2 separate regions of the Homo sapiens genome follow, and region 2 is linked to region 1. A link means that fine-mapping ties the variant in region 1 to the expression of a gene that starts in the linked region. Tissue or cell type: hypothalamus. Region 1 holds a variant in brackets; the other region holds the start of a gene. All regions are shown on one strand. Distances are from middle to middle.

Evidence for each region. PIP is the estimated chance that this variant, and not a neighbour inherited with it, causes the effect.
Region 2: it holds the start of TEKT3, and the variant in region 1 is fine-mapped to the expression of TEKT3 in hypothalamus (GTEx, PIP 0.93). The same link has a PIP of 0.9 or more in nucleus accumbens.

The regions. Positions count from the first base shown.
Region 1 is chr17:15,552,607-15,561,168 of GRCh38, forward strand. TVP23C-CDRT4 (TVP23C-CDRT4 readthrough) reads right to left here. Exons shown (of 6, transcript NR_037924.2): 2 at 2,676-2,758. TVP23C (trans-golgi network vesicle protein 23 homolog C) reads right to left here. Exons shown (of 6, transcript NM_001135036.2): 2 at 2,676-2,758; 3 at 1,079-1,223. Among named protein-coding and RNA genes, the nearest start is that of TVP23C, 6.6 kb to the right of the region's middle. The variant A/T (reference allele first, on the strand shown) is at 4,085.
Region 2 is chr17:15,340,043-15,344,042 of GRCh38, forward strand. TEKT3 (tektin 3) reads right to left here and starts at 1,555. Exons shown (of 9, transcript NM_031898.3): 1 at 1,476-1,555; 2 at 1-19.

The DNA of each region.
Region 1 (8,562 bases):
CCAGGAGGCAGAGGTTGCGGTGAGCCAAGATCATGCCATTGCACTCCAGCCTGGGCAACAAAAGTGAAACTCCGTCTCAAAAAAAAAAGAATTAAAAGATCTAAAAATGGCTACATTGGTGGATGTGAATAGGGTTGTAACATCTTACTAGTCTTTGAATCAGTATATGTCTCTGAAACTCCAAAATCAGCCTTTGATTTTTTTCTCCACTATTTTACTATATTTTCGAACACACACAGTTAAATTTTACAGTGAATACCCAAATATCTATCATCTAGAGTCCATATTTAATATTTTATTATGCTTACTTATCTATTTATTATGTACCTATCTATCCATCCATCCATCTCTCTAATCATTGTTCTTGAGTTTGAAACCATTTCTTACACTCCTTTCTATCCCCTACAGCAGGGTGTCTCAACCTTGGCACAACTGACATTTTGGGTCAGGTAGTTCTTTGTTGCAGAGGGGCCGTCCTGTGTGTTAGGATATTTAGCAGCATACCTGCCCTCTAGCCACTAGATGTCAATAGCACACTCCTCCCACCTCCAGTCATGACAACCAAAAACAATTTTGGACACTGACAAATATTCAGTGGGTGGCAAGCTTGTCTCTGGTTGAGAAACACTGCCTTAAAGCATCCATAGGAGCCTTTTCAAAAGGTAGGTATTTTTTAGGTATTTGTGGACAAACTACACTGGGGCCTTATCTAGAAATTATATACAACACACCTACAGGTAAGCCTGAAGCAAAACCCATGGTATGGATTAGAAGCAACATTGTAGGGTCTATGGTTGCTAGTCACATTTGTTTGTTTATTTGACTTTAAAGCTGATGTAGGTTAGAATATGGCACAGAAAAATCAGCAGCACAGTAACCTACATGTCTCATCTTGTATTGTCAAAGGGAAAAAATGAAAAAAAAAAAAAAAAACTACATGCAATTTGATATATCTAGCACTTCAACACAGATGAGGTTTGAAGTAACAAAAGATTAACAATAATGCAAAATGCTGTCATATTTTTATACATCATTTTCATATTAAATATAATTTTAAAATAAAAACAATCAAAATTACCTTCACTGCCCAAAAGTCACACGACAACAACAAGATAATTGTAACCATACAGGTAATAAAGCTGCTGCTGAGCAACTCACAGAGAAGACAGACGATGATTGCACTGACTCGAAAGAATAAGTGGAAAAACGATGCTACTGGATGTCTGAAAACCAAAACACAATGAAAGAAATGCAATTACATTTTACTACAGGTACTAGCAAATGTAGAGAAAAATGTTTTAGCCATCGTGTAACTGTGAAGAGTTTTGTCAAAATAAAAGAGGTGACTTTAGTAGGAGGAAGCAAACCTCCTAGCTCTCTTTTTCTTAAGCCCCACTATTTGACTAGGCCCTATAGTGACAGAAAATACACTATGCACAGATGACTTTAACACCTCATTGAATATAAACTTTCACAAAATAGATAATAAAGAATTTTACCTCTCTTGGAGAAATAAGGAAACCGTATCTTAGAATTTGAATCCTATTTTCAAATCACGCCAAAAGAATTCCTTAGCCCTCAGAAATCACTCAGACATTAAGACAAAGTTATCAGGTAGTTTGTTTGTTTCTTTTTTTTTTTTTTTTTTTGAGACGGAGTCTCGCTCCGTCGCCCAGGCTGGAGTTTGGTGGCGCAATCTCGGCTCACTGCAAACTTCACCTCCTGGGTTCACGCCATTGTCCTGCCTCAGCCTCCCAAGTAGCTGGGACTACAGGCGCCTGCCACCACGCCCGGCTAATTTTTTGTATTTTTAGTAGAGATGGGGTTTCACCATGTTAGCCAGGATGATCTCAATCTCCTGACCTCGTGATCCACCTGCCTCGGCCTCCCAAAGTGCTGGGATTACAGGCGTGAGCCATCGCGCCCAGCCTGTTTCTTGTTTTTTAATAGCTTTTTTGAGATATAATTCACATATCATACAATTTACTTATTTAAGGTAAACAATCTAATGGTTTTTAGTACATTCACAGATTTGTACAACCATCACTCCAATTTTACAACTTTTCATTACCCCAGACAGAATCTTTGCACCCACTGGCAGTCATTCCCCATTTACCTTCAAACCCCTCAGCTTCTAGCAACAGCTAATCTATCTTCTGTCTCTACAGATTTGCCTATTCTGGACATTTCATATAAATGAAATCATACAATATGTGGTCTTTTGTGACTGGCATGAAAGATGAAAGAAAAGTAAAAAACAGCATTTTAGCAGGGTTCAAGTAGAATTTGCTTTCGATAAGTGAATTTATTTAGAGAGAATTAAATTTAGAATAGAAATGTTATGTGATTTTGAAATGTGCACAATAAATCAAAATGTAAAGTATCTACAGAAACTATATAAAGAAATGGTACATTCTTGGAAAATAGCACAGAATTAAAAACACAGGTGTTCAAATAATTGGATTTGCTGATTTTAAAACTCAGTATTAAGTATGCCAATTATTCACAAGAAAATCTGAAATGTCATCTTTGTCTTACACTAAATGTTAAATTAGCAACATGCAGTATTCACAAGCACATTGAAACAACTCTGCCTTGACTCCCATCAGCTAGCACTGACATACATACAGAACAACACTGGACACTAACACAGCTCATGCAACTTCTCCTCCTACCTGATTTTGGCTTTTCTTGGTCTATTAGTCGTCTCCTCTTCCGCATCAAACAGTGAAACATCTTCAGTGTCATCATTACTATCCTGGTTGGAAAAATAAATGGTCAAGAAGCAAAACAAAATTCAGTGTTTACACAGCCACTGCAATGCAAAGCTGCATACTCATCAAAATAGAAGATAAAATAATGTGGTTACAGCATCAGGAATTCAAAACCTAGAAAAGGACACATGCAGATCCTCCACCCGCCTCCTCAAATCATCTGGCAAAAACCCCAGAGAATAATCGAAGTCTCAGCTCCTCCATCCCTGCCCCTAGGCTGCACCATCTGAGAAAACTCTGGGGTGCAGATGAGGCTACTACAACTTAACACCTGTCCTCCTCACCTGTTCTCTCCCAAGTCACAGAGCAAGCCGAGGCTACTGGGGATAATCTCAAGGTTTCTGGCTCCTTCACAAAATCATCTGACTGCATCCTTAGTTCCATGACCCCTTCTCACAACTCCTCCTCTTCTTATCCAAGGCTAAACCAATTATTTGTGCTCAGAATAACTTCTTTTCATGCCTCCTCGGGGATTTGTTTCATCATTTTCCCCTGTATTTACACTTTCTTCTATCTTCAAGTCTATCTATTGGATCTTTCTTTTTTGTTGTTGTTGAAATGGGGTTTTGCTCATCACCCAGGCTGGAGTACAATGGCACGATCTTGGCTCACTGCAACCTCCGCCTCCCGGGTTCAAACGATTCTCCTGCTTCAGCCTTCCAAGTTGCTGGGATTACAGGCGTGTGCCACCACACCCAGCTAATTTTCATATTTTTAGTTGAGACGGGGTTTCACCATGTTGGCCAGGCTGGTCTTGAACTCCTGACCTCAGGTGATCTGTCCGCCTCAGCCTCCCAAAGTGCTGGGATTACAGGCCTGAGCCACCACGCCTGGCCTCTATTGAATCTTTCTAATCAGCATATGCATATAAACTTCTTCAAGGCCACTTATTAGGCAAAAAAAGATTTTTTTAAGAACCCTGATCCTGAATCTCCTCTTCAATCCTCTACCTTCCCAAAGCATTGCTTCCTTTTACCTTAGGCTTTTTTTTTTTTTTTTGAGATGGAGTCTTGCTCTGTCGCTCAGGCTGGAGTGCAGTGGCGTGGCCTCAACTCACTGCAACCTCTGCCTCCTGGGTTCAAGTGATTCTCCTGCCTCACCTTCCCAAGTAGCTGGGACTACAGGCGCGTGCCACCATGCCTGGCTAATTTTTTGTATTTTTTTAGTAGAGACAGGTTTCACCGTGTTAACCAGGAGATTTCATGACCTTGTGATCCACCCGCCTCGGCCTCCCAATTGCTGGGATTACAGGCGTGAGCCACCATGCCCGGCCCCATAACCTTAGGCTTCTAAGAGTGGTTCACACCTCA[A/T]TTCACTGCAATTCCCCTCAACTACAACAAACCTGATCCTGTTCCTCTCCTAGCGCCACTCACCAGCCTCCCTGCCTTTATCCCTCTCTATTCCAGCCTCTCCTTTACATTACCCAGAGCAATCCTCCCAATATGGAAATCACACCATGTCACTCTACTGCTCAAATTTTTCAATGGCATCCCTACAAGTATAGGATAAAATTTAACTCCTTCACATAAAGCATAGAAGATCACAGAATCTAATGCCCCCTACTTGCTTCTGACACTGTCTTCATTGAGCACTGTTGAGCACTGAAGCAATACTGTTACTACATGGTCTCTAAGAACACTACGGTCTCTCTCCCATCTCCTGCCTTTCACATGTTGTCTCAGAAAACTCTTCCCTTCCCCATGCCCTGCTCACCACCAAATACCAAATCATCCTTCAAGTTTTTTAGCTCAAATACTGAAATAGCTGAAAACCTGTCTCTGAAATCCCCATGTTCCCACAGCACTTGGACGAATCTCCATTTGAACAATTATCTCAGAGTATTCTTATTGCACATCTACCCGCTCCTACCTCCATATAGATTAAGCTGCTGGAGGACCTAGAAGACAAGGTTTTTTTTTTTTTTTTTTGAGACAGAGTCTTGCTCTGTCGCCCAGGCTGGAGTACAGTGGTATGGTCTCAGCTTACTGCAACCTCCACCTCCTGGGTTCAAGCTAGATTCTAGTGCCTCAGCCTCCTGAGTAACTGGGATTACAGGAGTGTGTCTCGGCTAATTAGCCTGGCTAATTTTTGTAATTTTAGAAGAGACAGAGTCTCACCACGTTGGCCAGGCTGGTTTCAAACTCCTGACCTCCAGGGATCCGCCCACCTCACCCCCCCATAGTGCTGGGATTATAGGTGTGAGCCACCACGCCCAACCAAGACTGTCTTTGCATTGTAGTAAATCCTAGTGTCTAGCAGAGCATTCAGCCAAGTGGTACAGTATTTGTTGAAGGCATGAGTAAATAAGCAAAGGAGACGATAATATACAGCTGACTGTGATCAGGGCTGAGAAATCTAAGTGCAAATGGGAGCCAGGGAAGGAAGCAAATCATTCCTACTACAGGGCACTGGAGAAGCTTTCTGGAGGAGAGTTTGTCAGCTGGGCCCTGACAGTCCGCGTAGGCCTCCCTAGACTAGGTATATTTTGAAAGGCACAGGTGGGAATACAGGAAGTTTGTCTAAGAAATGGTCAAGTAGCTCATGCAGTAAGTGATGGATGCGAGAAGCTCCTACTGAGCTAAGGCTGAAAAGGTAAAATGGATTCAGATCTATGAAACTAGTGGTTCTCAACCTTGGCTACAATTAGAATGCTCTTTTTCTTAAAAAACAAACAAACAAACAAAAAAAGGCTGATACTTGGGTCCAGCCCTCAGTGGTTCAGATATAATTGCTTTGAGGTGTGATCATAACGTACAGCAAGACTGAGATCCACCGTATGATGTTATGAATAAAAAGCTGAGGCCTTCTGCTCTCGATCCCAACAGTCTAATCGCCATCCAGCGGCCAGGGAGACTTTTTCACATCAAATCCTATCATTCCCCTACTGAAACCTCTCAGCACTATGACTGAAAAACAGACTCCCTATCATGACCTATCATGATCTGGTCCCTGCCAATCTCTAAGACCTTATCTCAGGCCACTCACTCTTCATTAACTGTGGTAGGCTGAATACCTCCTCACCCCTCCCAAAAATGTTTAGGTTCTAATCTCTGGAACCTGTGAATATGTAAATTTACTTGGCAAAAAGAATTTCACAGATGAGATTAAGTTAAGGATCTTGAGGTCAAGAGATCATCCTGGATTACCCAGGCTGGTCAGATGACATGATTACAATGGTCCTTACAAGGGAAACAAAGGAGGGTCAGTGAGAGAAGGTGATGAAACAAGCAAAGTAGAGGTGAGAGACAGAGATTTGAACAGGCTGTGCTGATGGCATTAAGATGGGGAAGGGATCCCAGGTGTTTAGAAGCTGAATCAGGCAAGGAAACTGATTCTCCAGAACCCCTACCCACACCTTGATGTTTAACCCCTTGAGCCTCATTCTGGACTTCTGACCACCAGAACTTTACAACAGTACATATGACTTCACTGCCGCAGTAGCAACAGGAAATTTATACAGTACCTAAGCTCCTGCCAGACTGGCCATTTTTTTTTTTTTTTTTGACACAGGGTCTGGCTCTCGCCCAGGCTGGAGTGCAGTGGAACAATCAGGGGTCACTACTGCAGGCTCTACATCTCAGCCTCCTGAGTACTGCAAGCCACCATATCTAATATTTTAATTTCTTGCAGAAATAGGGTCTCGTTATGTTGCCCAGGCTAGTCTCAAACTCCCGGGCTCAAGCAATTCTCCTGCCTTAGCCTCCCAAAGTGCTACGATTAGAGGCATGAGCCACCATGCCCAGGCTGGCCTTCTTTTCAGTTCCTTAAACATGCCAAACTTGGGCCCCGTCAGGTTCTTTTGCACTTATGGTTCATATTACCTAGAACACTATTCTCTTACCCTGCTCTTTGAAAGACTGATTTCTTCTCATTTATTCAGTAAATACTGAGTGCCTACCAAGTGCCAGGTACTGCTGTAAGTGGTACAGATTTAAAAAAAAAAAAAAAAAAAAAAAGACAAATAGCTCTGCACTCCTGGAGTTACATTTACTAAGATGGGGAAGACCATGGACACAAAAGATTTCGGGGCAAAATCAGCAGTTTGATTTTGGACATTTTAAGATGCTAAACGACATTTTAAGATGCTAAAACCAAAAAAGCATTGAAAGGGAGATCCATTGGAGTGTTTTAAGTGTAAGACTGCATGTTCTGACTCACCTGTTAGAAAGAGAATTCTGGCTACTGTAGTAAAAATCTGGAGGGGGAGGGGAGAAGAAGGAGGGACAAAAGCACAACGCTAGGAGACTGGTTAGGAAACTACTTTAATCACGAGGCCAAGAAGTAGTGGCTTGGTCTAAGATGGATGCAGTGGAGGTGATGAGAAATAGATTCCAAGTACATTTTAAGGTAGAGCTGACAGGATTTGCTGATGGACTGACTGACTGGGGAGGTGGAGGAAGGGTAAATAAAAGGAATCAAGGAAGATTCCAAAGTTTTTGTCCTGAACAACTAAAAAGATAAAGATGGCTAAGACAGACTCCTGGCATTCCAATAATTAGAGATCACAAAGATAAGAAGGAATAGGCTGTGGGGACTGAAAAAGAAGTACCAAGGAACATAAGGTGAGCCAGGAGGGGGTAGTGTCCTGGAAACCAAACAAAGTGCCTCCAGGAGGAGGATCCATCATCTGTGTCAAATGCTACTCATAAGTAAGATGAAAACCAAAGAGAGACCACTGTATTTTTTTTTCTTTTTTTTGAGACGGAGTCTCGCTCTGTCGCCAGGCTGGAGTGCAATGGTGTGATCTTGGCTCACTGCAACCTCCGCCTCCCGGGTTCAAGGGACTCCCCTGCATCAGCCTCAGCCTCCCGAGTAGCTGAGACTACAGGCACATGCCACCACCCCCAGGTAATTTTTGTATTTTTAGTAGAGACGGGGTTTCACCATGTTGGCCAGGATGGTCTCCATCTCTTGACCTCATGATCCACCCACCCTGGCCTCCCAAAGTGCTGGGATTACAGCCATGAGCCCTGCGCCCAGCCATGACCACTGTATTTTTAACAGGTCATCGGGGAACTCAGTAAGAGCAGTTCCAGTACAGTTGGGAGAGGGGAAGAGAGACTGACTAGAATGAATACAAGAGAGACTGGAAGAATTAAAAGACAAGTATATATGATACAAGTCTTTAAAGGAAAAAGAATGGAGTGACCAGTGAAAGAGCATGTGGTGTCAAGTTTGTTTTTTTTGTTTGTTTGTTTGTTTTGAGACGGAGTCGCCCAGGCTGGAGTGCAGTGGCACGATCTCGGCTCACTGCAAGCTCCGCCTCCCAGGTTTACGCCATTCTCCTGCCTCAGCTTCCCGAGTAGCTGGGACTACAGCTGCCCACCACCACCCCTGGCTAATTTGTTGTTTTTCAGTACAGACGGGGTTTCACCGTGTTAGCCAGGATGGTCTCGATCTCCTGACCTCGTGATCCACCCGCCTCGGCCTCCCAAAGTGCTGGGATTACAGGTGTGAGCCACCGCACCCGGCCAAGTTTTCATTTTTTAAGGTAAGAGAAATTAAAACACGTTTATATGTTGATGTGAGCAAACGTTTAAAAGGATTAAAAAACTGATGATGCAAGAAAGAGAATTACTAGAACAATGCCTTCCAGTAGGCAAGAGGAGATGGAAACCAGGACACAGTAGACAGGAAGACCTAAGAATGGAGCACTGACAGTCCAATTATCATAAAAGAATATGAGACCCTGAGTAAACATGCAAATAAATAGGCAGCTAGTGTGAAAATTGTCTTCCGACGGCTTCCATTTTCAGTGAAACAAGAAGCAACGTTACCAGCTGAGAGA
Region 2 (4,000 bases), 210 kb before region 1:
TCAATTTCTTGGTATGTACCTAGAGAAATGCAAATATGTTTACAATTAGAATGTACAAGAATTCCTTTCTAGTATTTTTAAAGGGAGCAAACTAAAAGTCCATCAACAGGAGGATGCATACATAATATGTGGTAAATTCATGCAAGAATCACCACACAACAGTTCAAATGAATGACCTGCAACACGTACAGCATAACCATTCTATCAACTTAAAAAGTAACAGTAGGCCGGGCGCGGTCCTCATGCCTGTAATCCCAGCACTTTGGGAGGATCACGAGGTCAGGAGTTCGAGACCAGCCTGGCCAACTTGGTGAAACCCCCTCTCTACTAAAAATACAAAAAAAAAAAAAAAAAATTGGCCAGTTGTGGTGGCAGGCACCTGTAATCCCAGCTACTCAGGGGGCTGAGGCAGGAGAATCGCTTGAATCTGGGAGGCGGAGGTTCCGGTGAGCTGAGATCATGCCATTGCACTCCAGCCTGGGCGACAAGAGCGAGACTCCGTCTCAAAAAAAAAGTATACATTGGTTTAGGATAAACATATGAGTAGTAAAAGTATAAAAATATGCAGAATATAAGTAAATGCTAAATTCTGTTGGTTAATAGGGATAGGTAAGGAGAGAGGGGAATGGGATTTCCAAGGGTTACATAACAGACCTTAATTGTGCCTGTAATCGATTTTTTGTTGGTTTAAGTTTGGACTGGGTACATGGATTCACCCCTGGGTTCACTCTACTTATTGTGTGAAGTATTTTATTTTAAAGAAGAAAAAAGTAGAATATTTTGTCAGTTACCTCAAAACATTTTCGCCTGTTAGTAAAACTGTATATTTTTTTCACAATAATCAAACAAATAATTTTACCCATTTCCAGGATGTTTATTTCTCTACAATACTATATACATCCAGGAGAAAACATAAAGGGGTTTGGTCTAAACTGCCCAAACACAAGCGAAAGCTTTGCAGCCAAGCTAAACAGAAACGACTTTGGGCGGTGAGAGAACAGCTTTGATCTGAATTTAAGGAGCTCGGTCTACAAGACCAGGTGATTGAACTCTCCTCCCCGTGGCTGCAGATCTGAAGGCTCGGCTATTGAAGCAGAGGGGGACGAGGAACAGCGTGCGGGGCGGCCAGCACCGCAGTGGAAAGGCACAGCGCTGCTAACGGGTAATTATTAGAATTAAGAAATTAAACGAATTAGCACAGTGTCGGGGGTTCGGATGCCCCTTCCCTGGGCATCCCTTGAAAACCCTTGAAAAGCATCAGAAAGGTAAATTACGAGGAAACCAACGTCTGGGTGGGAGGTGCCTGTGGATTTGTACGGTTTTTATTTGGAAGGAAAAGTGAAGATCGCGGGGAGGAATTGCAGGGTGTCCGCGACCTCCCGCGATCCTGAGGCGAGAAGTTGGAGTCCTGGTTGGCGAAGGGGGATCCTTTGGGGTAGTCCTAGAGGCAGGCTAGAGTCAGCGAGACCACTCACCTGTCGGCGGATGCCCGGCGAGGGGCGGGAAGGGGCTGTGGGAGGAAGGGGTCGCAGCCTACCACCTGCAGCCCTCGACTGGGGCCCAGACCAGTCTGGCCCTGGCCCCGCCTTTCCTATCTGTGACGATAGCAGCGCCTGAGGGCCACTCAGCGGCCGCCCCGGCCGGCTCGCCGGAGCTGACTGGCCAGTTATAGGAGAGGCGGGAGCTGTCAGGCCAGGAGGGAAACCCGTCGGGCGGCGGTTACTATGGACGCGCTCACGCTTAGTAACCGAGGCTCCCCGCCCTCCGGGAGACCTCCTTGGTTTGGGAGGTGAAAGGGGTGAAGAGTAGCCCAAGGGAGAGGCCTCGGTGATTTCCCGACCTCTCCTGTGAAGCCTGATTCGGAACTCTTCCAGCTGCGAAGAACTTGGCCGATTCTAAGGCACATCAGGGCTGCCTGGAACCCTAACACCTGCCTAGGTGTTGACAAGCCCCCACCTTTCCTGACCAGCCTCTCTTCTCTCCAGCAGAGCTTCTCCTGTGACAGAATTATCTAGTGTTCCTTCCCTGCTTCCTCACTCTAAGAAAATGGTTTGGGCTTTCCCTCTCTCTCTTCAGCAAATATTTCCGTAAACAGCAGCCCGTACTGTTTCTTCCAGGTGCTGGCCCACATTTTTACATACATACATCATTGCTCATCCATGCAACCTCTTTCCAAACCTGTAAGAGGGGTTTATATTGTACAGATGAAGAAACTGAAGTTCGAGAAGTTAATTGACTTAGACAATGTGACTCAGTGGCAGAGCTAACACTAAAACTCAAATCAGTCAAACTTCAAGGCATCTTTCCATGAGGCAGCAGTCTAACCGTGTGAGCAGCAAGAGAATTCACCGAGTTACTTTGGTAACTAGTAATGCTAAAGAAAATAAAGCCCTCAGTTAATTATTTTTGGCTTTTCTGGGAATCACTGTGTGGCACTCCACCCAAGGACGAGGCGGAGGGACTTGCCAGGATAAGGCAGGCTGCCCAGCCCCTAGGAGACCTCAATGAAGTGACTTCAAGTCGGGGGCTGGTCCTCAGCTTTGCCAATTCAGACTCTTGGTTATGCCAGTGTCCCGAGTTTATTAGAGGCTGACTCAGGCCAACCGAACTCATGGGAACCTAATCTAGAAAAGTTAGAATGCTGCCTCAAGTGTTTACATTAAGCAACACGACCCCTCTAACTGTGGAGATGAGCCCAGAGTATTTTCCCCAAAGAGGAAAACCACAGAAAACACCCAGTGCTCAGAGGCTACTCATTTGCCTAGACACAAGACTAGACAAGGCTCCCATACCCGACACCAGGGCACTGCAAATCCTGACTAGTTTTCCCACTATGTTCCTTATCAGCAACTTTTTCTACATTCGGCCTAAGAAACATTTCACTCTGAGCTGTCTTTTTTTATTACTTTTTTCTCATGCATAGTGTTCTGCATTTTGTATTTTCAGTATTCAGCACGGGCTTTGCAGATGCCTAGAATCCGTAGACAATGCAGCAAATGATGCCATGTTTGTTCTTTGGGCCAAAAGACTGGCAACTGTTCTAAAGTAGATCTGATTGCCCACAAACTCTTTAAAGATGATGAGCAGTCTTTGTGCTTTGCACACATCTAGATGCCCAATAGCATTGCTAATTGAAGACAAAATTCATTCAATGTCTGATTTAAAAATAAACAGGTGAAATTATAGCAGAATTTGATCTTTTCAATGATACATTGAGTCAGTGAATTTCAAAAACCTCCTGATTAAAATTTCAGGTTAAATTGATCAACTCTGTTCTCCATAGAAAGGATTGAATGATGTTTTGGAAATAATTTAGATACCCTCTCAAAAAAAATTGTCTCATGATTATCAAGTCTTTGCCAGAATTGAGGTTAATGCTTGCCCTTCAGTTTTACAGTACGATAGAGACCTCCTACAATGCTTATTAAAAAAAATAAAGCAAGACCACTAGGATTCAGCTATTCAACCTTACTTTCTCAGCAGCTCCACAAGTTCAGGAATGTGTCTGTTTCTGTTCATCTCTGTATCCCCAGCATGGGGCTTCCTACCTGCCATGAAAGAGGGACTCAGTCAATGTTTGTTAAATGAAAGCATGAAGTGTGATGTTTAGTGGGGTAGGAAACTATCAAAGATACAGAAGTGGAGAAGCAATAAAGCAGACTTTGCCTATTTTATAACTTTGCCTTAGTCATTTTCATAACTTGAAGTCATTTTTATAACTTCCTTAGCTGCTACATTTTCACTCTATTTAGAGTCACCAAACCTCCTCTCCAGTCTTTCTGAGCCTTCCTATCACTCAACCATCGCCCTTCATCAAGATGCTATCAGCCCCTTTGAGCTGTCTATCCTTATCAGAAATCAAGTGTGGGCCTAGCCATCTTCACCCCTGGACTTCCACCCCCGTTCCCATCCTCACAGTGACTCACGTCCACAGCCTGCTTTCTCCATTTCTCCTCCAGCACTAAAGTTAATCATCACATTCTTCCTATTCCCCTGACCT